3 linked regions of the Homo sapiens genome follow. The protein of the gene in region 1 purifies or fractionates together with the protein of each later gene. This does not show direct contact. Each region holds a gene or a part of one and is shown in the gene's direction. Other genes may lie near its edges. The genes, in order: UTP25, AAK1 and MPHOSPH10.

Region 1 (7,111 bases):
TTTAAGTTCTGACTTTACTGTTTTATTAACTCACAATGGGTGCATTTTCTCAGAGAATCCTAAACAGATACGCCAGAAATCTCCCAAGCTTTGGAGCACATTAGATGATGCACTTTGGCATTGCATTACCTTTTAGTTTATGCTAAAACGATTAGGATGGTGCTCCCCAGATAACGTCCTTGTTCCCAGGATGGGGAGGGAGGCGTCCCAGCAGCTTGCCTAGGCATAGCAAAGCTGGCATGGCATGACCTCTTAGAGAGTTGAGGATTGATTAAATTTGTGTTTCCCAGGCTCCATTCTTGGCTACCCAGAGAAGGCTGCTTGGCCAAAGAGTGTTAATGAATGCCTGCTTGTTGCCCTCATTATTTGCTCTGTTCCAGTAAGTTGTCGTTTCCATTCATGTTGGAAAGTATTTGGGGAAGTTGCACTCATCAGGTCTTAAAAGCTCTTAGCTTTCTATCATCTTGACAAATGAAAGCAAGCCCTTTAAGTGAAGTGGATGGATTGGAAAACTTCCCAGTGTGATTGTCTATGGCAACTGTGAATTAAGCTGGGATGGGAATTAAGCTCTTTAATATCTCAGCAGCTTTTCAAGGACAGGGCATGGAGCCCTTTGTAAGCAGGACAGTCTCCTGTATTACACTGTCTATTTACCAAGCCATGTTGCCCTCAAAGTCACGATAAGGACAAATCTCAGCATATGCCATTTGCTTTATGCCCTGGGCCAGGTTAATTGGTGTTTCTTTTGTAGAAGATGAATGAAAATAATGTGCTTTAGAGTTCTGCAACAGCTAATTATCTCAAGGTTTCCAGCTATAGAATTTTTTGCTCGAGAGATCACCAAGGTGATGATGGATGTTTTGGTGTGCAGTGCCTTTGTGATTTTTTTTTTTTTAATTTGACCTTAGAATAAGTACTTTTTTTTTCTTTTTCTTTTTCTTTTTTTTTTTTTAAGACAGTCTCACTTTGTTGCTCAGGCTGGAGTGCAGTGGTGTGATCTCGGCCCGCTGCAGCGTCTGCCTCTTGGGTTCAAGCAATTCTCGTGACTCAGCCTCCTGAGTAGCTGGGATTACAGAATTGCATCACCACGCCTGGCTGATTTTTGTATTTTTAGTAGACGAGGTTTTGCCATGTTGGCCAGGCTGGTCTTGAACTCCTGGCCTCATGTGATCTGCGCACTTCAGCCTCCCAAGAAGTGTTGGGGTTACAGGCATGAGCCACCGTGCCCGGCCAGAAAATGTACATGTATTTTATATTGTAGTATCTGACTCTGTTTTTATATTCTCTATGACAGCTGGCAATGTTAGGAAGATTAGAATTCATTTTTGAGTTAGCAAAAATTTTTTAACCTGAAGATTTGTTTTATGTGGGGAAGATTAAACTAGCAGAATCTTAGAATTGGATGAACATTTGGTCATGATTGCCCTCCCAGTGATGGGTCACAGCTCTTTTCCAGTGCGTTATCAGTGGGTTTCCACAGCAGGGAGGATCTCAACCAGGAGGCAAGTCAGAAACTGGAGGTGGGATTTGTGGAGTTTGGAAAGGCTGCTGGGAATTTCTGATTACTCCCTTCCCCTACAGGAGAATCCCAGTTCTAGAAGTAGTAGACTTGGTCTTTATGGACCGTAGGAAGGAGCCAGTCTTTCAAGTTCATTGTGGTTGCCTCATTTGTCTTTAACAGTGGCTCGTGAAATAGACATGTGGAAGGTACTGTAAGGGTGATTAGGCTGTGTTTGTAGGAGTCACTGAAAACAAAGCATATATAAGGGAGGAGGAAGGCAGGGTAAGGGGTGCTCAAGCTATGGAGACTTGCCACTAACTGCCCCTTGGAAGAGGCCCTGGCCATGTTCTCTGTTGCCAGGAGATACTCAGTCTCTATTGTGGTTGCATTGGGACTGAGACAGATTTTCATGTGTGTGTGTTTAATATAACACTTAACAGTTTTATTGTTTTGTTTTTCCTGATTGTGAGGGTATTTCACAGTTATTGTAGAGATATTGGAAATTTTAGGTTAAAAATCTCACTGCCCTGATATAAATACTCTTTTTGGTAATTTTTTTCCATCTTTTTTATGTGAAAAATGTGTGCACATGCACACGTGCACACACACACGTGTTTTTTTAAAAAACAATACTAAAATTAGGATCTTTTTTTGTTTTAAGGATTTTTTTTTCCTTTGTCTTAGATGTTTTATGTGCTCATTTAAAAAAATTCAAAGACTAACATTTTGGCCTGTATATTTGTATATTGTGGATTTTTGTGTATATTTTTAAGTTACTATATATAGCTCTACGACATCCTCTCTTCCCCCAGGTTTTTATTTGAAAAGATTTCATTGTGAAAGAAAATTGTTAAGAGACTAACAATAAACATCTGTTTATTTATAAATGCTTTTACCCCAAATTCCACCAGCTGTTCTCATTTTATCACATTTGCACATACCCATCTTCTCTCTATCCCCACTCACATCTCTTATTTTTTCTTCCTGAACCATTTGAAAGTAAAGTAGCGTGAGTCTTCATTGACACTTCACCCCTAAATATTTTAGCATGTAGCTCCTAAAAACAAAAACATTCTTTTATCTAACCATAGCACCATTATCATGCTACCTGATGTTACTACAGTAATATCATCTGATATCTAGTCTATATTCAGATTTTGCTAGTTGTCACCAAAATGACCATTATAGCTCTTTCCCCTCCGGCCAAAAAGGATTCAGTAAGGATCATATATAGCATTTGGTTAACTTACTGCTTTTGTTTCTTTAATCTAGTTTAGTTCTCAATTGGGGAACAATTTTGCTCCCTCAGGGACATTTGGCAATATCTGGAGACATTTTTGGTTATCACAACTGGAGGATTATTCTGGTGGTTCCAGTGGGTTGAGACCAGTGATGCTGTGAAACACCTTCGTTCACAGGACAGCCCCCAACCACAAAGAATTATCTGTCTCAAAATGTCAGCAGTGTTAACACTGAGAAACCCTCATCCAGAATAACTCTCTTGCTTTTTTACTTTTTCATGACATCGACATCTTTTTGAAGAGTCCAATCTGGTTTCCTGCAGTATGTCTCACAGTCTGGATTTATCTAATTGTTCCCTTGTTATTTAGATCAGTGGTTCTCAAACTTTGCCGTACGTTAGAATAGAAGCTTTTAAAAATCCAAATGCCCAGGTCACATCCCAGTACCAATTAAATCGCAGTGTCTGGGATGGGGACCAAACCTAAGTATTAATAAAAAAAATAAAAAAACAACCAGCTAGGTGATTTCAATGTGCAGCAGTTTGGGGATGACTGATTTAGAATAAATATCTTTTGATAAGAATTCTACTTAGGGAATATTACGTACTTTCTACCTCATCTCATCAGAAGGCACGTAATGTCACTTTGTCTCATTCTTGGTGATGCCAAATCACTAAAATCACTTAGTGTGTGTATGTAATTAATAAGTAACGTGTGAGGTAAACATCACATTGTTTTTAATGGCTACATAGTATTACATTGGTTAATTAAGCTAGCTTCCTTTTAGTGGGCATATAGGGGTTTTTTTTCTGTTTTCTGCTGTTGTATATAATAATACGCAAAACATCCATATGCATATGTTTTGATGAAATACTTACCTAGTTATTTTCTTGGGATAGATTTTGAAAGGAAAACTCGTTAGCACAGAGGCTGTACACAGTTAAAAATGTGTCATGCGTTGCCACTTATTTGCTCCTTTGCATCTTTTCCATATCTTCTCCTGAATTCATAGACAAAGTAATTTATGCTCCATTCACCTATTTCTCCAAAGCTCCATAGACTGAATTATTGCTACTGATGTGATAGTCAAAATGATACCTCATTGTTTGGATGTCTTTTCTTGCTTTTTTGTGTCTTCTATAACTTTCAATGGAATGTAGAGGCTGAAGTAAATAATACTTATGTCCGGCCGCACCCCTTCCGTAGGCCACTGGTGTGGGTGCTATCAATCTAGTCAGGATTTGATTGTTACTGTAGATACCTTCCCAACACCACAGACCTCAAATTCCTCCAGCAGACAGTGGGCTTGGTGTAGGGTCTCGGGTGCTGGAGGGTTTTTCTCAGTGTCCTGATTGCTCAGCTGTCACTGAGGCCTTGACACGTGTGCCAGAGGAGGGTCTCACTCCACACTCAGACCCCTCCTCACAGGAGGCCTCTTGTTTCTCCTTGCAAGGCATGAAGTCGGGGGGAGGGGGTTCTCCTGGTCCAGCTCAATTTTTGGCAGGCCCTTTTTATTCCAAGCTTTGGGGGTGAGGTTTTCTCAGGGTTCCTGCCCCGCTACCTCCGTGGCAGCCAGACTCCACCTTTTATCTGTGAGGGATCTTTGTGGTGAAGTGTATACAGCTTCTTCCCTAATCGAACTCTGCTTGTATCAGTGCAGGAACTTGGGCTGAACAGGTTTCTTACCCCTTCCTCTGGGGCAGAATGCTTTTTACTGGGTACAAGTCTTGTGTGGGGGACAAATGGAAGGGTGGGGGTTTACTGCCCTTCCCTTAAGGGCAGACAACTTTTGCTTCTACTCACCCTCCCCCTCAAGTGGTTTGCCTTTGCCTGCCTGCGATTAGGGGTGGGGGACAGGGTGGCTCCTTTCTTCTCCCCCGTGTGCTTCACGTTTTTACCATGGGTTTCACGATAATGGGCCTGGGAAGTAGGTGGGCTTTCATGTCCCTACCACCAGTGGGGTCTCCCTCGGGTCTTCTGCTTTCTCCAGGGCTCCCAGTGCAGGCCTCTGGAACAAGCTCATGAGTGGATGTGAACTAAAGGAGCATCCAGGGATCCCTGGGGTCCTGAAGTCAGGCAAGCCTATTCTTGCCCTTTAAGAATGTGTTAGAAGTGTATCTATTTTCTTACTACCCACTTTTTTGGCAGAGGCCATCTTTCTCCTGTGCTCTGCCTAAGGTGCAGTAGTTCCTGTGTCCCGTTTTTCCTCAGAAGGGCTACTCTTTGGAACTCAGTCCATGGTGAGCTGAAGCTGGCTCACACTGGCTCATGAGACCTGGCTGCACATCTCTGGGTCAGCAGCATGACATTGGTAGCTTGAAACTGACAAATCCTTCAAATTAGCACCCTCCCTTTCTCCCACTGAGGACCAATTATTAAACATACACCAGCTCACCACCTAATTCAGGTTACCTGATTGCTTCATGATGGTAGCTCTTTGGGCTCAAGAAAAGGAACATTTTTGTATAATAGATTATCTGACTTTTTCTTATTGGTATAGGAGCAATATTCTCGAGTTTTATACATTCTAAGCAGAAGTAGAACTCAGTGTTGTTTTTGTTTTGAGAACTAGTGAGGTAGAACAGTTTATTCAAGTTCATTAGCCGTTAGAATTCCTTCTTTATGGAAAGGATGTTGAAAGGTGAACCACATAATAGATCACAGTCATGGTTTGGGAAAGGAAGGTCTCCAGAGAGATCAGGATGAGCTGTGAGGGAAAAAGACAAGGAAAACTTACCTTCTGTGAAAGAAATAAAATCCCCAAGGGAGTCTAACGTCTTCAGTGTATGAGAGAAACTTAACAGGAAAAATCAGAAGCTTGTCAACATATAAAATCTTTTGTTATGGAATCCCACAGGGGAACGGTTGACGTCAGCCTGACTGAACCATACTGCAAGTCAGTCCCTTGGGTGTACACCACCCCCCACCACAGGGCGGCACTGTGCAGCTGGGAAAGAGATGGAAATGCATACGCTGTTGAAACTAATTGCTTTCTCATGATGCCTAGTGGGTCCTTGGGCAGGGTTTTGTAAATGGATGAACTTGGGACGTCTGCCATGGAGTTAACATGTATCCAGAGTGGCAAGAAAAGACTAATGGGAGTGTATTTACAATCTGTACAACTTATTTTATGTACTGGGTCTGACCTTGTCTCCATTCTTTTTTGCCTGATTATAATAAGGCTAATGTTCCATTTTAAGTGCCTGCTTTTTAAGTTTTCTGTGACAGATTTTTAAATCCTGGTCTACTATTCTTTCCCATGATACCTCAGCCTACCCAGTGTAGGATCAAGAAATGTGTATTTATTTTATCATTTTCTTAAGCCAAATATTAGGAATTCGAATATGTTGTCATAAAAAGAATTCAAATATGTTGCCACCTCAAGTTAGAATAACTTTTGTTCTGTTACTTGTGCCACTGTTTTTCTCCATTAGCAGGAAGCAACAAGCATGAACTATGCCTCTGTACAACTCCTAGGTAGTTTTTCTAGAACTTGTTTCTCAAGTTGACATAGCTCTTTCTTTCCAATTCTGACAGGTATACAATAAAAGGCATCAGGAACCTGATTTTCTATGAACTGCCGACATATCCACACTTTTACAGTGAAATCTGTAATATGCTGAGAGCCACCAACAGAGGAGAAGAGGCCACGTGGACCTGCACTGTTCTCTACTCCAAATATGATGCCCAGAGGTTAGCTGCCGTGGTTGGTGTGGAGCGGGCGGCACAGATGCTACAGTCCAACAAGAATGTCCACCTCTTCATTACTGGAGAAAAATGAAATTTTGTTGGGCAGGAAGTGGTATTTGGCATGATACATAATGTTTGATTCTATGCCATTTGGACCCAATTCTGATTACTTACAGAAGAAGGACTGATACAAAGAAAGTGCATGAGGCAATGTCAGTATTATCTGACATCTTTCTTTTCAGGTCATGTGTCCCTGAAAAGTTAAATGTAAACCAGATTTTGGTAAATCCCATCTTTCAGAAGTGAAGAGGGGGCTAGAAGGACTCTGAGAAGTTGGTAGAAGAAAACTCCCACTTGTGAATATTTTTGTGAGACATAAATTCTTTTATTACGATTTACCTCTAATTTATTACACTTAGTAAATTCTTCCAGATTTTTCTATTTGTTTGACACTTCCTTAAAGTAAGGAATACACATTGCTTGCGAGAACTGGTTATGAGACATTGGAATACTTCTTGCTGCTACATGTCATCTTAATTTTGGATGGCATGGGTTTTGTAAAACTTATTCTGCCCCAGCCAAACTTTTTTGAAACCTTAAATAGTCTACCTTAATTCAGCCTAGAAGAGTACATTGATTTACTGATCTTTTTTCATATTCATAATACTAAATGTTTTAG
Region 2 (7,111 bases), on another chromosome or scaffold:
TGCCTGGAATCTGGGGGTCATTCTAATGACAGAAACAAAGGACCTCAGCTCCAGAAAGAAGCTGTCTCAGGCCCCATGGCTGGCAAACCATTCCGCCCCCAGTCCTTATCCAAGTATTCCCGTCACTATAGCCCAGAAGACGAGCCAAGTCCAGAAGCCCAGCCCATTGCTGCCTACAAAATTGTTTCACAAACCAACAAGCAGTCGATAGCTGGGTCTGTTTCTATCACATCCCTTTCCTCCAGGACTACGGAGCTGCCAGCTGCTGATCCATTTGCTCTAGCACCCTTCCCTTCAAAATCAGGCAAGAAACCCTAGGAGCAAAACCTGAGCCTCAAGCCTCTTGTCTCTATCCCACCCTCAATACCCGCCATGGCACTCCCAGCTTAGCCTTCTGAAGAAGAAATATTATCAGTTCTTATATTTCAATTCCCTGCGTCAGAGCAGAATTTCTTGAGTCAACAAACTCAGTTGCAGTGATATTTAGTTGAAGCCCCTTTAAGTTATGTTCATTTTTGTTTGTTTGTTTGTTTGTTTATATTGATTTCTGGACTTGGAGGCATTTTCATCTCCTTCACAGAGGTCATCCACTTCCACCAAGAACTCTGCTTTCCCCCCGCCCCACCCACAGAAACTGTTTAAATCCTGAAATACTTCTTCACCCCAATCCCAAAGGGGCCCTATTGTTGCTAGTTTTAATTCCTGTAGCTCCTGTTCTAAGTCATGCCCATCGAAGAATCAAGATTAGTCCCTCCACTAAATCAAGATTTAGTACTCTTGAAAAGGGGAGATGTCTGGAAAGAAGAGCAAGATAAAAACCCTGCACATCAACAGGAAGTATAATCCTGCAGTTACTAATAATTCCTGTAGAAGCAGCAGCTCTAGGAGTCTCCAGATCTGATTCTCAGTCTGTGTGCAAGCCAGGCTGGCTCTCGTGCATGACTGTCTATGGGTGTGGAATGTACGTCAGAGCCTGTGTAGAGATACAGGCAGATGGGCTAACTCCTCATGTCTAGTCATGCTGGCAGGGCTTTCCCCACATCCATGCTTTTGAAATTAGTGTGAGTGTACAGGTTTGTGTGTGCATGTATACGTGTGTGTGCACAGGAAGCATTTCCACTTGAGGGAAATCCTGCCCCATCATGCCTACCTCCACAATGAAATCACTCGTTTTTTGGTGTTTGCTCGCCTAACTGACTTGAACCCCATTTTATTTATTTAGTTTTTTTCTCATGGCAAAGTAGAATACGTTGGAAGGTGTAGGGAAATCCTGCTGGAACTGGTGTTTCAGAGTAAATCTTTTTTCTCTCCGGAATTTCTTGTTTTGCTATTAACAAATTATATTTACCTGATTATGAAAAATTAATTTTCCTTATACATTTTCCCCTTACAACACTAGAAAAGAGCACCTTGTTACAGTTCCGGCCTCTCAGTATGTGGGCTAAATGCCAGCATTAGGGAATTCATTAATCATGAGACTAGGCTACAAACTAGGCTTGCTTGTTTTGGGGTGGTTTTGTTGTTGTTGTTGTTGTTGTTGTTGTTGTTTCCAAATCTCTACTGCCTTTTGAGGAAATGTAAATCTGAGACATGGAAATAAGTGTTTGGGAGAATGGAAAAGAGCTGAATCAGGTAGGCATGAAAACTTTTACATTCTCTATCCTCTTTAGATGTTGAAATAGGCCAGACAGGTTAACTGATGTTTTTTAAAATTGTCTTTTATTTCTGGAAAGATCTGACTTATTCCTAGCTTTTTTCATACCCTTTATTATTAGTGCCTTAAAATAAAGCTGGCCAGGTGCAGTGCCACACACCTGTAATACCAGCATTTTGGAAGGCTGAGGCAGGAGGATCAGTTGAGCCCAGGAAGTTCAAGACCAACTCTGGCAACACAGCGAGACCCTGTCCCTTCAAAAAATAAATAAAAAAATAGGCTGGGCATGGTGGCTCACACCTGTAATCCCAGCACTTTGGGAGGCCAAGGTGGGCAGATCACAAGGTCAGGAGTTTGAGACCAGCCTGGCCAACATGGTGAAACCCCATCTCTACTAAAAATACAAAAAATTAGCTGGACGTGGTGGTGCACACCTGTAGTCCCAGCTACTCAGGAGGCTGAGGCAGGAGAATCGCTTGAACCCGGGAGGCAGAGGTTGCAGTGAGCAGAGATTGCGCCACTGCACTCTGGCCTGGGCGACAGAGCGAGTCTAAAAAATAAAATTAAATAAAATAATGAAAAAAATTAGCTGGGTATGGTGACATATGCCTGTAGCTACTCAGGAGGCTGAGCTGGAAGGATCACTTGAGCCCAGGAGTTTGAGGCTGCAGTGAGTTGTGAGTCCAGCCTGGGTGACAGAGTGAGACACTGTCTCCAAAAATATAATAATAAAAATAAAGCCTGTATCTCAATGGGAAGATTTCTGCTAAGGCAGTTCAACTCACTGGAAAGAACTGCTGCATTAGGTTTCAACTTTAATGCTTTCTGTTACTTCTAGTAAAGGTTAAGTGATTTTTCCATTAGCTGTAGAAGTTTGGAGAGCTATTTACCAAGCCAGATCAATGATTTAAAAATTATTGGAAATTCATCTAAGAATCAAGTCTGAATGCCCAATTCTATTGCGGTTGATTAGGTGTGATATTCTTTAAAGTTCAGGAATATTGGCAGTAAAAAATGAGCAGCTACTTTTCAATACTTTGTCCTTTTTTGGTGGTCTCTGCCTATTTCAAATGTCCTGATCAAAAGATAAATAATTGGCACTGTGCCAAGGTTTGGTTTTCCAACTAAGGTTTCAACTGTGCCAGAAACCTATGTCCTTCACTTTGGTGGATGCTAAATGTTATTCTAAGAATATGCTTTTTCCCAATTCTCCTTTCTGATTTTTATGTATTAGTGGATGCAAAATTGTCTTTCTAGTTGAATGAATAATTTCGGCTAATGCACGTGGAACTTTGCACCCCAGATTCTTCCCATGGTCATTATCAAGTGAAGCCCTCAAAAACATGAGCGAAGAGCCTAGAAATACTCAGGGAGATTTCTCACCCCAACTCAGAAATTTTTTTTTTTTTTTTCAAGACGGCGTCTTGCTCTGTCGCTCAGGCGGGAGTGCAGTGGTGTGATCTCGGCTCACTGCAACCTCCATTTTCCGAGTTCAAGCGATTCTGCCTCAGCCTCCCGAGTAGCTGGGATTATAGGCACACACCACCGCGCCTGGCTAATTTTTGTATTCTTAGTAGAGATGGGGTTTCACCATGTTGGCCAGGTTGGTCTTGAACTCTTGACCTTGTGATCCACCCACCTTGGCTTCCCAAAGTGCTAGGATTACAGGCGTGAGCCACCGCACCTGGCCCAGAAATTCTTTTTTTTTTTTTAAATTATTATTATACTTTAAGTTTTAGGGTACATGTGCACAATGTGCAGGTTAGTTACATATGTATACATGTGCCATGCTCGTGTGCTGCACCCACTAACTCGTCATTTAGCATTAGGTATATCTCCTAATGCTATCCCGCCCCCCTCCCCCCACCCCACAACAGTCCCCAGAGTGTGATGTTCCCCTTACTGTGTCCATGTGTTCTCTTTGTTCAATTCCCACCTATGAGTGAGAACATGCGGTGTTTGGTTCAGAAATTCTTAAAGTAAGAGATCATTCTAATTCCCCTTTCCAAATATTCAGGATTATCTCTGTAACAGCCCAGCAAAATGTTTTTCCTTTGGTTATTTGATAATTCCCTTCTAATCAAGTGACTATTTTAATTCTCAAGGTGCAAATCAGGATAAAATCATGGTGATTTTACTACATAGTTGAATACTTCGTCAAGTATGAGCTTGTATCCTTTTTAAATTTTTCACTGGAGGCCAGGCGCGGTGGCTCACGCTTGTAATCCCAGCACTTTGGGAGGCCGAGGTGGGTGGATCACTTGAGGGTAGGAGTTTGAGACCAGCCTGGCCAACATGGTGAAACCCTGTCTCTACCAAAAATACAAAAAGTAGCTGGGCGTGATGGCACGCACCTGTAGTCCCAGTTACTAGGGAGGCTGAGGCAGAATTGCTTGACCCAGGGAGGCAGACTTTGCAGTGAGCCAAGATTGTGTCATTGCACTCCAGCCTGGGCGAGAAGAGCAAAACTCCGCCTCAAAAAAAAAAAAAAAATTGTCACTGGAGACATGATGGGTGGAGACTCTACATACCTTCTTTGAATACAGAAACGGATGCAAACACATGCAAATTACTTTTTTTTTTTTTTTTGGTGATGCATGAAAAAACTTTGACTTGTGGATTACATTAATTATTAGTAACAGTTAGATTCTGCCGACTTGTATTACAGTAGGGTCTTATTTCCTTAAAGAGAAAAAAAAATACAGTCATGCCCCACTTAATGATGAGGGAGACATTCAGAGAAATGCATCCTTAGGTGATTTTGTCATTGTGTGAACATCACAGAGTGTACTTAACACAAACCTAGATGGCACGGCCTACTACCTACCTAGGCTATATGGTCCAGCCTGTTGCTCCTGGGCTACAAACCTGTACAGCATGTTACTGTACTGAATACTGTAGGCAGTTGTAACACAATGGTAAGTATTTCTGTATCCAAACATTTTAGACATAGAAAAGGTACAGTAAAAATATGGTATAATCTTATGGGACCATCATGGTATATGTGGTCCATCATTGATGGAATCGTTTTTATGCAGCACATGACTGTATATAATCAACAAACAACTCTACTTTCTTGTTTTCGTTTGTTGTGTTTTTGCTTTACACATTTGATAGGGAACATAGAAGTTGTGACCTTTCATTTCAGTGGAAAGCATTGAGCCAGAATATATTTATTCCTAAACCATCGAGCCACACATGCATTGATGAACCCTGAAAGAATCCACAGTAATTGACTAACAGGCAGTACTGAATGAAAGATGTCATATGTGGTGAAAAATATTTAATATATCAGTTTCTTGGGCTCACATACAGCCCTTTAGTTCCAAGTGCTTGGTTAGATTAGAAAATGGGATGAACACAATTTGATGCTGAAGCAGCTGCTGAGCAGCACCCAGGGAGTCTAGGTCATACGCCCTATATTGTTTTCGGCCCACTTATTGTTGAGTTGAAAAGTCTCATATTTGTAGACTAGAGTGTATGTGTTTAGAGGCTCATGTTGTATCTGAGTTTTCTCTGGCAACTAAGATCTCTTTCTAAACGTTCTAGAAAGATACTGGTATCTTACTGGCCCATTATTTAGTAAGTTTTAGAATACATGTACATCAGTGTTTTCAACTGCTTGGTGGACATTTCACTGATGCATAATCAAAGTAGCAGATTATAATCATCAGAGTGATCTGACAAGGAAATTCTGTATTTGCTTCCATAAAGAAAAATAATCAAAACATATATCAGATATAATATATATGCAGTATATCACATAGGAAATTTTATTGTAGGAAATTAGAGAAGGATGCTACTCAATTCATTCTCTAGCAGGAAGAATACAGCTTAAAAATCACTTGGGTCCCTTTAATAAAGAAAAGTGTGATTCTGTGTTGTGTGTTTGGAACTGAAATTGGAGAACACGTGCCAGTCGACTGTGAAATGGTTGCTGGATAAAACCACAGATGTGGTTTTATCCGAGAAATGTGGGACTGAAATTATTTTGATGAGAGGTACATAAGAGAGCTGCAGAAAAGACTGTAGCTTCTGAGGAGGCAGGAGTACCTTGTTAATATCCAAACCACCCCTGAGTTCTAATGTTCCAACTCCACCTAAACGAGGAATTGGAAACTTTAAATGGAATTATCTAATTTAAATTCTTAGTTTTTTCTTTGTCTTTCTCAGCTGATACTTGTAGTTTTGTTTTGTTTTTTAACCACCAAGAACACTTGCAAGTTTGTTACTGAAAACATCACTAAAGGAAAAGAAGAGTTTCAAAATGCTTGAAAAGTAGTATGTGGTTGGGAATTGTTTTTGTTCAAGTCCCTGGAAGTCCTCTTGGCTTAGCTCCCTTGTTCCTGTTCCCACTTCATTTCCTTACTTAACATTCCCCTATTTTGAGCATGTCAATAAGTGCATGATGAATGGCACAGTTGAATGATCATGTTAACTTTAATTGCTTCCTTTGTTGCTGTAAACAGTTTCTTGTTAAGTTTCAGCCAAGTCTGTGACAATCTCACCAAATAAGAATGAAATGGGCGGGGTGTGGTGGCTCACACTTGGAATCCCAGCACTCTGGGAGGCTGTGTTGGGCCGATCGCTTGAGCTCATGAGTTCAAGACCAACCTGGGCAACATGGCAAAACCTTGTCTCTACAAAAAATACAAAAATTAGCCAGGCATGGTGGTGCACACCTGTAGTCCCAGCTACTTGGGAGGCTTAGGTGGGAGGATGGCTTGAGCACGGGAGGCAGAGGTTGCACTAAGCCAAGATCGTGTCACTGCACTCCAGCCCAGGCAATAGAGCCAGACCCTGTCTCAAAAAAACAAAACAAACAAAACATGAATGAATGAAATGGCTCACCTTCCCTATTATGAACTAGAAGAAAGGATGAAGGAAGGTTGGCAGGACCCCAGCCTTACTCTGTAGTGACAACCCAGAGGTACTTTTCCCGGAATGCAGGGTCAAGTTTATGTGTGAAGGGACTCTAGAATAGCTGGTAAAAATGGCTACATGGTAACCATTCTTGACTTAGTCCAGTATTCCCATAATTTGTAATTCCATAAATTTATTCTCAGCTGTCCCCCAGCCATTTCTAATAGAAGGATGTGTACCCCAGTTTTGACAATGTTCTTGAAATCAAGTTAGTGTTACCTGCATTGCATTATAATGGAACTATATGTACATGTTAAAGGGATCCGTTTGATTCCTTTCGGCAAGGAATTGCAAAAATAGTTTTTACCAATACCAGTTAAAATAGGATAGGTTAGACTTTGGGGGCAGGGTGAGACAGTGCAGCCTTTTCACTCTGAAATGGCAAATCAGCTGTACTCTTTGAGTCTACCAGAGATTCCTATTTGAGTGTGAATGGGGTGTGTGTGTGTGTGTGTGTGCTCATTCATCTTCATGCTTTCTTCCATGGTGTTAATTCAAGCTCTCCTAATAAAGGTATCCAAAGAGTACTGAGAA
Region 3 (7,111 bases), on another chromosome or scaffold:
GAGCACTTTCCTCCTCAAATTAGCTTTTCTTCTGTTTTTCTAGGAGAGATTTAATTGTAGTTAGAAGATTTAGTGATAAGAAATATTGTGCTCTATCTTATCAGTTATAAATGAATCTGTACTTCCATTCAATTTATGTTCCAGTTGGTCTTATAATTTTGTGGTAGTGTTATTAGTTGCCATTTTCACCTAATAATTATTTAGTTATTAGTTTGGTTATTAGTTATTAGCTTGTAGTGTTATTAAGTCAGAAAGTAATATATACATACAATATACATGCAAATCTATATGCATGTGTTAATATATTTTTCTATCCCTAATTAATAGTTTTTAATATCTTTTTATTTTAGTCAGGTAAAAGTTCCAGAAATCTGAAATACAAAGATTTTTTTGATCCAGTTGAAAGTGATGAAGACATAACAAATGTTCATGATGATGAGCTGGATTCAAACAAAGAAGATGATGAAATTGCTGAAGAAGAAGCAGAAGAACTAAGTATTTCGGAAACGTGAGTATTTTGAACCATCCTTTACATTGTAAGCTGGAATTGCCCAATCATGTGTGTGTACTCGTAGTTATCAAATGTGTTTGTCTTAGCAAGTTCTATTCTCTAATATCAGATATTCTCAAGATAGCCAGAGGAAAGTCTCTGACTGTAAAGGGACATTAGAGATCACTTAATGAAGAAAAATATCTCTGGTAGTAGCAATCAAACCTTCCTTACCAGGAACTTTGATTTGGTTTTGTGTCAATAAAATCCTGTTATTTTTGTGAGATAAGAGATTTGTATTATAGATTGATGAATAATTTATTTTCTATATGTTGGACACTTTTTTTTCTGTTTCTTACATAGCGTTTTACCTAAATAATACCTTTTGTTCCTTAATAACTGAATGATTTTGGAAGTTCTGAGTATTTGGTTGCATTAGGTATATAAAATAAGAACTTTATTAAGGGAAAATTTGTTTCCTTTTGTTTTTCTAATGGAAAGTAGTATATTTCTTTTTATAAGAGTTTTGGTATTGTAGGGATGAAGATGATGACCTTCAAGAAAATGAAGACAATAAACAACATAAAGAAAGCTTGAAAAGAGTGACCTTTGCTTTACCAGATGATGCGGAAACTGAAGATACAGGTGTTTTAAATGTAAAGAAAAATTCTGATGAAGTTAAATCCTCCTTTGAAAAAAGACAGGAAAAGGTAATTAGTAATTTAAGGAATTTTTAATATACTTGATATTAACCATCCTTTGAAAACTATTAACCATCCTTTGAAAACAAATATCTTGGCCAGGTGCAGTGGCTCACGCCTGTAATCCTAACACTTTGGTAGTCCAAAGCAAGAGGATCGCTTGAGCTCAGGAGTTCAGAACCAGCCTAGGCAACATAGTGAGACCTTGTCTCTACCAAAAATACAAAAATTAGCTGGGCATGGTGATGTGTGCCTGTAGTCCAGCTACTCTGGTGTCTGAGGTGGGAGGATCACTTGAGCCTAGGAGGTTGATGCTGCGGTGAGCTAAGATTGCATCACTGCTCTCTAGCCTGGGCGGCAAGCAAGACCTTGTCTTAAAACAAAAAACCAAAAATCTTGCCATATGGAAAGCATCTGATTTGCAAAATCAGTGCCTGCATTTCAGTTTGGGGCCTGTGAGTAAAATAGTTGCTTCTGCTGGGCGTGGTGGCTCATGCCTGTAATCCCAGCACTTTTCGGGGCTGAGGCAGGTGGATCACTTCAGGTCAGGAGTTCGAGACCAGCCTGGCTAACATGGTAAAACCCCATCTCTACTAAAAAAAAAAAAAAGTAGCCAGGTGTGGTGGCGGGCACCTGTAATCCCAGCTAATCGGGAGGCTGAGGCAGGAGAATCCCTTGAACCCAGGAGGCGGAGGTTGCAGTGAGCCGAGATGGTGTCACTGGACTCCAGCCTGGGCGACAGAGTGTGACTCTGTCTCAAAAATAAAAAAATTTTTAAAGATAATTGTTTTTTTCTCTGTCCCTAATATCTTTATATGTATAGCATGTCTCTCCTGATAAAGCTGTCCTGTGAGCATCTTAACTGTTTCCACTGTTTTGGAGGATACCACATATGTCTTTTCTTTTTCTTTTTCTTTTTTTTTTTTTTTTTGAGACAGAGTTTCACTCTTGTCACCCAGGCTGGAGTGCAGTGGCGTGATCTTAGCTCACTGCAACCTCCACCTCCCAGGTTCAATCAATTTTCCTGCCTCAGCCTCCTGAGTAGTTGGGATTACAGATGCCCGCCACCACGCCCAACTAATTTTTTTGTATTTTTAGTAGAGACGGGGTTTCACCATGTTGGCCAGGCTGGTCTGAAGCTCCTGACCTCAGGTGATCCACCCACCTTGGCCTCCCAAAGTGCTGGGATTACAGGCGTGAGCCACTGCGCCCAGCGGATACCACCTATGTCTTTAAGGTGCTCCACAGATTTTTGTGAGTGCCAAATAGCCAGAATTTTAATTTATACCATCACAAACATATCTTTCAAAGTTGGTAAAAATTGTTTCTTTGTGTCATGATTTCAGACAAGTGAAATTTCATTAAATTTTTGTAGATGTAGTCTGGCTCTAATAATTTGGCTCTATCATTTATTTACCTTAAAATTTTTATCACAATAAAAATGAGAATAGGGCCAGGCACAGTGGCTCACACCTGCACTTTGGGAGGCTGAGGAGGGAGGATTGTTTGGAGCCCAGGAATTCGAGACCAACCTGGGCAACAGGGCAAAAGCCCGTCTCCACTAAAGATTAAAAAAGTTAGCTGGGAATGGTAGTGTGTGCCTATAGTCTTTGCTACTCGAGAGGCTGATGGGGGAGGATCTCTTGAGTCCAGGAGTTCAAGGCTGCAGTGAGCTATGATTGCACCACAGCACTCTAGCCTGGGCAACAGAGCTAGAGACTGTCTGAAAAAATTAAAAAAAAAAAGAGAACAGGCAGAGAATGAAAGATACCAAGAATATCAAAAGAATTGTTTTTAAAATCTAAGAATCTGAATTAAATCCATGGTTGTCAGATTGTCCCCAGAAGATAGAGAAATTCTAAGGGAAAAAAAGCACCATTATAAAATATCAATGAGTTAGTATCCTTCCACCCCACTCCTCCCGCCCTTCCCCAACAAATAAAGAAAGAAAGGTTTGGTTTTATTGTGAAATTATATCAGACCTTCAAGTTAAGTTTCAATAAATCAAAAATAATTTATTTCAATTTCCACATATAAAGAATAAAGTAGAACTTTCAACCTTTTTTTTTTTTTTTTTGAAACTGTTAGGTCATGAAAACCCAAACCTGACAGAGGTAGCATTAAAACACACACACACACACACACACACACACACACACACACACACACACAGAGCACAGTCTCATTCATGAACAGTGATGCAAAAATCCTACAGCACAGTGGAAAAATGATGCCACACAACTGCATGAACCTTATTCTCTTGAATCAGTATTAGAAAATCTAGTATGATTCCTGACTGCAAGACATTAAGGAGAAAAAACATATAGTCACCTCCATATATGTCAGAAAGACATTTGATAAAATTCAATATTCATTTCTAATTTTTTTTTTCACTCCTAGCGGAATATAAATACATTTAAGCCAAAAACTGCCATCATGCATGATGCATGCATCATTCTAGAAACATCCCTTTAAGATCAGGAATAAGACAAGATGTCCAGTATTACAATTACCACTGTTGATTAACATTCTTTTAGACGCATAGGCCAGTGTAACTACAAAAGATAAAGATAAGAGATGAGGAAAACTGCCAGGTGCGGTGGCTCATGCCTGTAATCCCAACACTTTGGGAGACCAAGGCAGGAGGATTGCTTGAGCTCAGGAGTTCGAGACCAGCCTGGGCAACATGGTAAGACCTCGTCTCTACAAAAAATACAAAAATTAGTCAGGCGTGGTTGCACGCGCCTGTGGTCCCAGTTATTTGGGAGTCCAAGGTAAGAGGATTGCTTGAGCCTAGGAGGTGGAGGTTGCAGTGAGCTGAGATCACGCAACTGCTCTCCAGCCTAGGCAACTGAGCGAGACTGTCTCAAAAAAAAAAAAAAAAAAAAAAGATTAGGAATACTGCAGATGTATTTATATTCCACTAAGAGTGAAAAATGAAAGTGTTGGTATTTGGAGAGGAAACCGAATGGATAAACTGAATTGATATTAGGAAAATAAGAGAATTCTGTAAGGTAGCTGAAAAGGCTGGCATTTTATACACTGAAGTCATCATTGTTGTCTTTTAAAAGTTAGAGATAATGGCCAGGCATGGTGGCTCACGCCTGTAATCCCAGCACTTGGTGAAACCCCGTCTCTACTAAAAAATACAAAAATTAGCCGGGCGTGGTGGCACACGCCTGTAATTCCAGCTACTCGGGAGGCTGAGGCAGGAGAATTGCTCAGGAGACGGAGGTTGCAGTGAGCTGAGATCACACCACTGCACTCCAGCCTAGGCGACAGAGCGAGACTCTGCTTCAAAAAAATTTTAAAAAAAGAAGTTAGAGTAAGAATTTGAGTTTGGAGTCAAAAGGGTCAGACTCCATCAGATACTAATATTCTAATCAAAGAATTACTTGACTTGCGAATAGATAGATCACTTGAATAGAATAGAGCCCAGAAACAAACTCAAAAGCTTCTGGGGGCGTTTAGTATATTATAAACATGGCATTTTAAATTAATCAGGAAAAGAAATTGTTTGCAGCTCACCCCACCATAGGCAGCAGAAATAGGAAGTCATCGACAGAATAAAAAGATGGCAAGAACAGAATCGTAGAACAGTACGTTTCTTGCTTTCCCACTTTTTAAATTATTTTTTGCTTTTACACAAATATAAGATTTTATTTTCTAAATGTATACTAGTTATTTTATCTCTTTCTTAGATGAATGAAAAAATTGCATCTTTAGAAAAAGAGTTGTTAGAAAAAAAGCCGTGGCAGCTTCAGGGGGAAGTGACAGCACAGAAGAGGCCAGAGAACAGCCTCCTGGAGGAGACCCTACACTTTGACCATGCTGTCCGGATGGGTATGGTGCCCTCTTCTGTAGTTTTCATGTCTGTGCTTTTTCCATGGTTCCATTTCATACAAAGATTTGGGGTGGTGTTTCTTTTCCCTCAACTTTTTATTTTAAAAACTTGTAAACACATGGCTTGGCATGGTAGCTCACACCTGTAATCCCGGCACTTTGGGAGGCCGAGGCAGACGGATCACCTGAGGTCAGGAGTTTGAGACCAGCCTGGCCAACATGGTGAAACCCCGTCTCTACTAAAAATACAAAAATCAGCCAGATACGGTGGCAGATTTCAGAATCCCATCTACTCGGAAGGCTGAGGCAGGAGAATTGCTTGAACCCAGAAAGGGGAGGTTGCAGTGAGCCAAGGTTGTGCCAGTGTGCTCCAGCGTGGGCAGCCTGGGCAACAGAGCGACACTCTGTCAAAAAAGAAAAAATCAACTTATAAACACAGAAGAGTTGAAAAAATACTACAGTGAACACCTATATGCTATTCAATTGGATTCACCAGTTACCATTTTGTTATATTTGCTTTCTCTCCCTAGCATATGTAAGATTGTATATGTGCCCTTTTTTTAAGTAAGTTGCCAATCTCATGGCACTTCACTTTTAAGTACTTTTGCAGATATCGTCTAAGAACTAGGACATTCTCCTATGTAATCACAGTACCATTAATCCACCCAAAAAATTTAACAATACGCTAATGATACCTAATGTATAGTTTGTAATCAGCTTTCTTGTAGTAATCTGTTTTGAAGGCTTGCATCCTGTCATGGTCCACTGATTAAATTTTGAACTTCAACCTGAAACTGTGGTCATCTCATTGACTTCTTTCTTGTACCCATTACATCAAAATGAGTTTTCATTTTATTTCAATGGAAGAGAGAATGGAAAAGAGGGGAAGAGTCCCTGGGTACCTTGGGTAAAGTATTAGCACTTACTACCATATGTATCCTAGTTTTGTGGTTTTCAAACTTCAGGGAGCATCACAAGGCTTGTTAAAGCACAGATAGCTGTCCCTCTTCCCCACTTTCTGATTCAGGAAGTATGGGGGTGGCCCAGGAATTTGCATTTCTAACAAGTTCCCACGTGTTGCTGATGCTGTGGGTCCAAGGACTGCACTGAATCAATGGTCTAGTGGATATCTACCTAATGAATAAACGTTGTATATCCTTTAGCACCTGTGATTACAGAGGAAACCACCCTTCAACTGGAAGATATCATTAAACAGAGGATAAGAGATCAGGTCAGTAAGAATTAAATTTAACTTAATCAAAATGTCACCAAGATTTTTAGAAATAATGTGAGAGTACTTTGAGAGTAGGACTATTGCTTTTTATTTTCACTTAGTGTTCACAAACCTTAAATCTAGGCTACCTAGTCAGCTTTTGTTGTGTGAGGTACTGCTCTTCAGTAGTATCCAGGAAAGACGAGTATTGTGCCTGAGAGGAGCAAGAAGCCATTATCCTTTCTCGTGAGTCTTGCTGACCTTTTGGGCGGTGCTCAGTGAAGCTGGTGGCTGACCTGTGATGGTTGCACCCAGAACCCTTGGCTTAGGCACAGTATCTGGTGTGGTAAATTATTCAGTATATATGTCCTAGTCTTTTTTCTGTTACTTATAACAGAATATCTGAAGCTGGGTGACTTAAAAGGAATACAGTTATGGAGGCTGAGAAGTCCAAGGTCGAGGGGCCTTCTTACCAGTGGGGATTCCGCAGAGTCCCAAGGTGGTGCAGGGCATCACATGGTGAAAGGGCTGAGCATGCTAAGATGCTGGCTCAGGTGTCTCTTGCTCTTCTTAAGAGCCACCATTCCCCCACTGATGATAACCCATTAATCCATAAATGCAACTGCCATTCATGAGGGCAAAACCCTGGTGATCCAGTCACGTCCTAGAAGGCCCCACATCTGAGTGTTGCCACATCAGGGATTAAGTTTCCACATGAGTTTTGGAGGGGACATTCAAACCCTAGCATTGTGGTAGTTCTACAATTTTAAAACCATTTCTCAATGGTGTATTTTTTTCAAATGTTAAAAACCTAGTGGTTTTTGTTGAAGAATTGATCTGATTTTGTAAACTTAGAATAAAACT

What was found.
Region 2: the proteins of UTP25 (region 1) and AAK1 purify together in Homo sapiens (affinity purification with mass spectrometry; 2 studies listed by BioGRID and IntAct, with this or other methods). This does not show direct contact.
Region 3: the proteins of UTP25 (region 1) and MPHOSPH10 purify together in Homo sapiens (affinity purification with mass spectrometry; 2 studies listed by BioGRID and IntAct, with this or other methods). This does not show direct contact.

The regions. Positions count from the first base shown.
Region 1 is NC_000001.11:209,844,925-209,852,035, forward strand, and holds part of UTP25 (U3 small nucleolar RNA-associated protein 25 homolog), read left to right. Parts: intron 1-6,279; coding exon 6,280-6,523; 3' UTR 6,524-7,111. UniProt on the Homo sapiens protein: Component of the ribosomal small subunit processome for the biogenesis of ribosomes, functions in pre-ribosomal RNA (pre-rRNA) processing. Essential for embryonic development in part through the regulation of p53 pathway.
Region 2 is NC_000002.12:69,458,632-69,465,742, reverse strand, and holds part of AAK1 (AP2-associated protein kinase 1), read left to right. Parts: coding exon of another isoform or gene 1-318; 3' UTR 319-4,031; coding exon of another isoform or gene 4,032-4,076; 3' UTR 4,077-7,111.
Region 3 is NC_000002.12:71,133,598-71,140,708, forward strand, and holds part of MPHOSPH10 (U3 small nucleolar ribonucleoprotein protein MPP10), read left to right. Parts: intron 1-350; coding exon 351-508; intron 509-1,028; coding exon 1,029-1,200; intron 1,201-4,892; coding exon 4,893-5,034; intron 5,035-6,197; coding exon 6,198-6,265; intron 6,266-7,111. UniProt on the Homo sapiens protein: Component of the 60-80S U3 small nucleolar ribonucleoprotein (U3 snoRNP). Required for the early cleavages during pre-18S ribosomal RNA processing. Part of the small subunit (SSU) processome, first precursor of the small eukaryotic ribosomal subunit.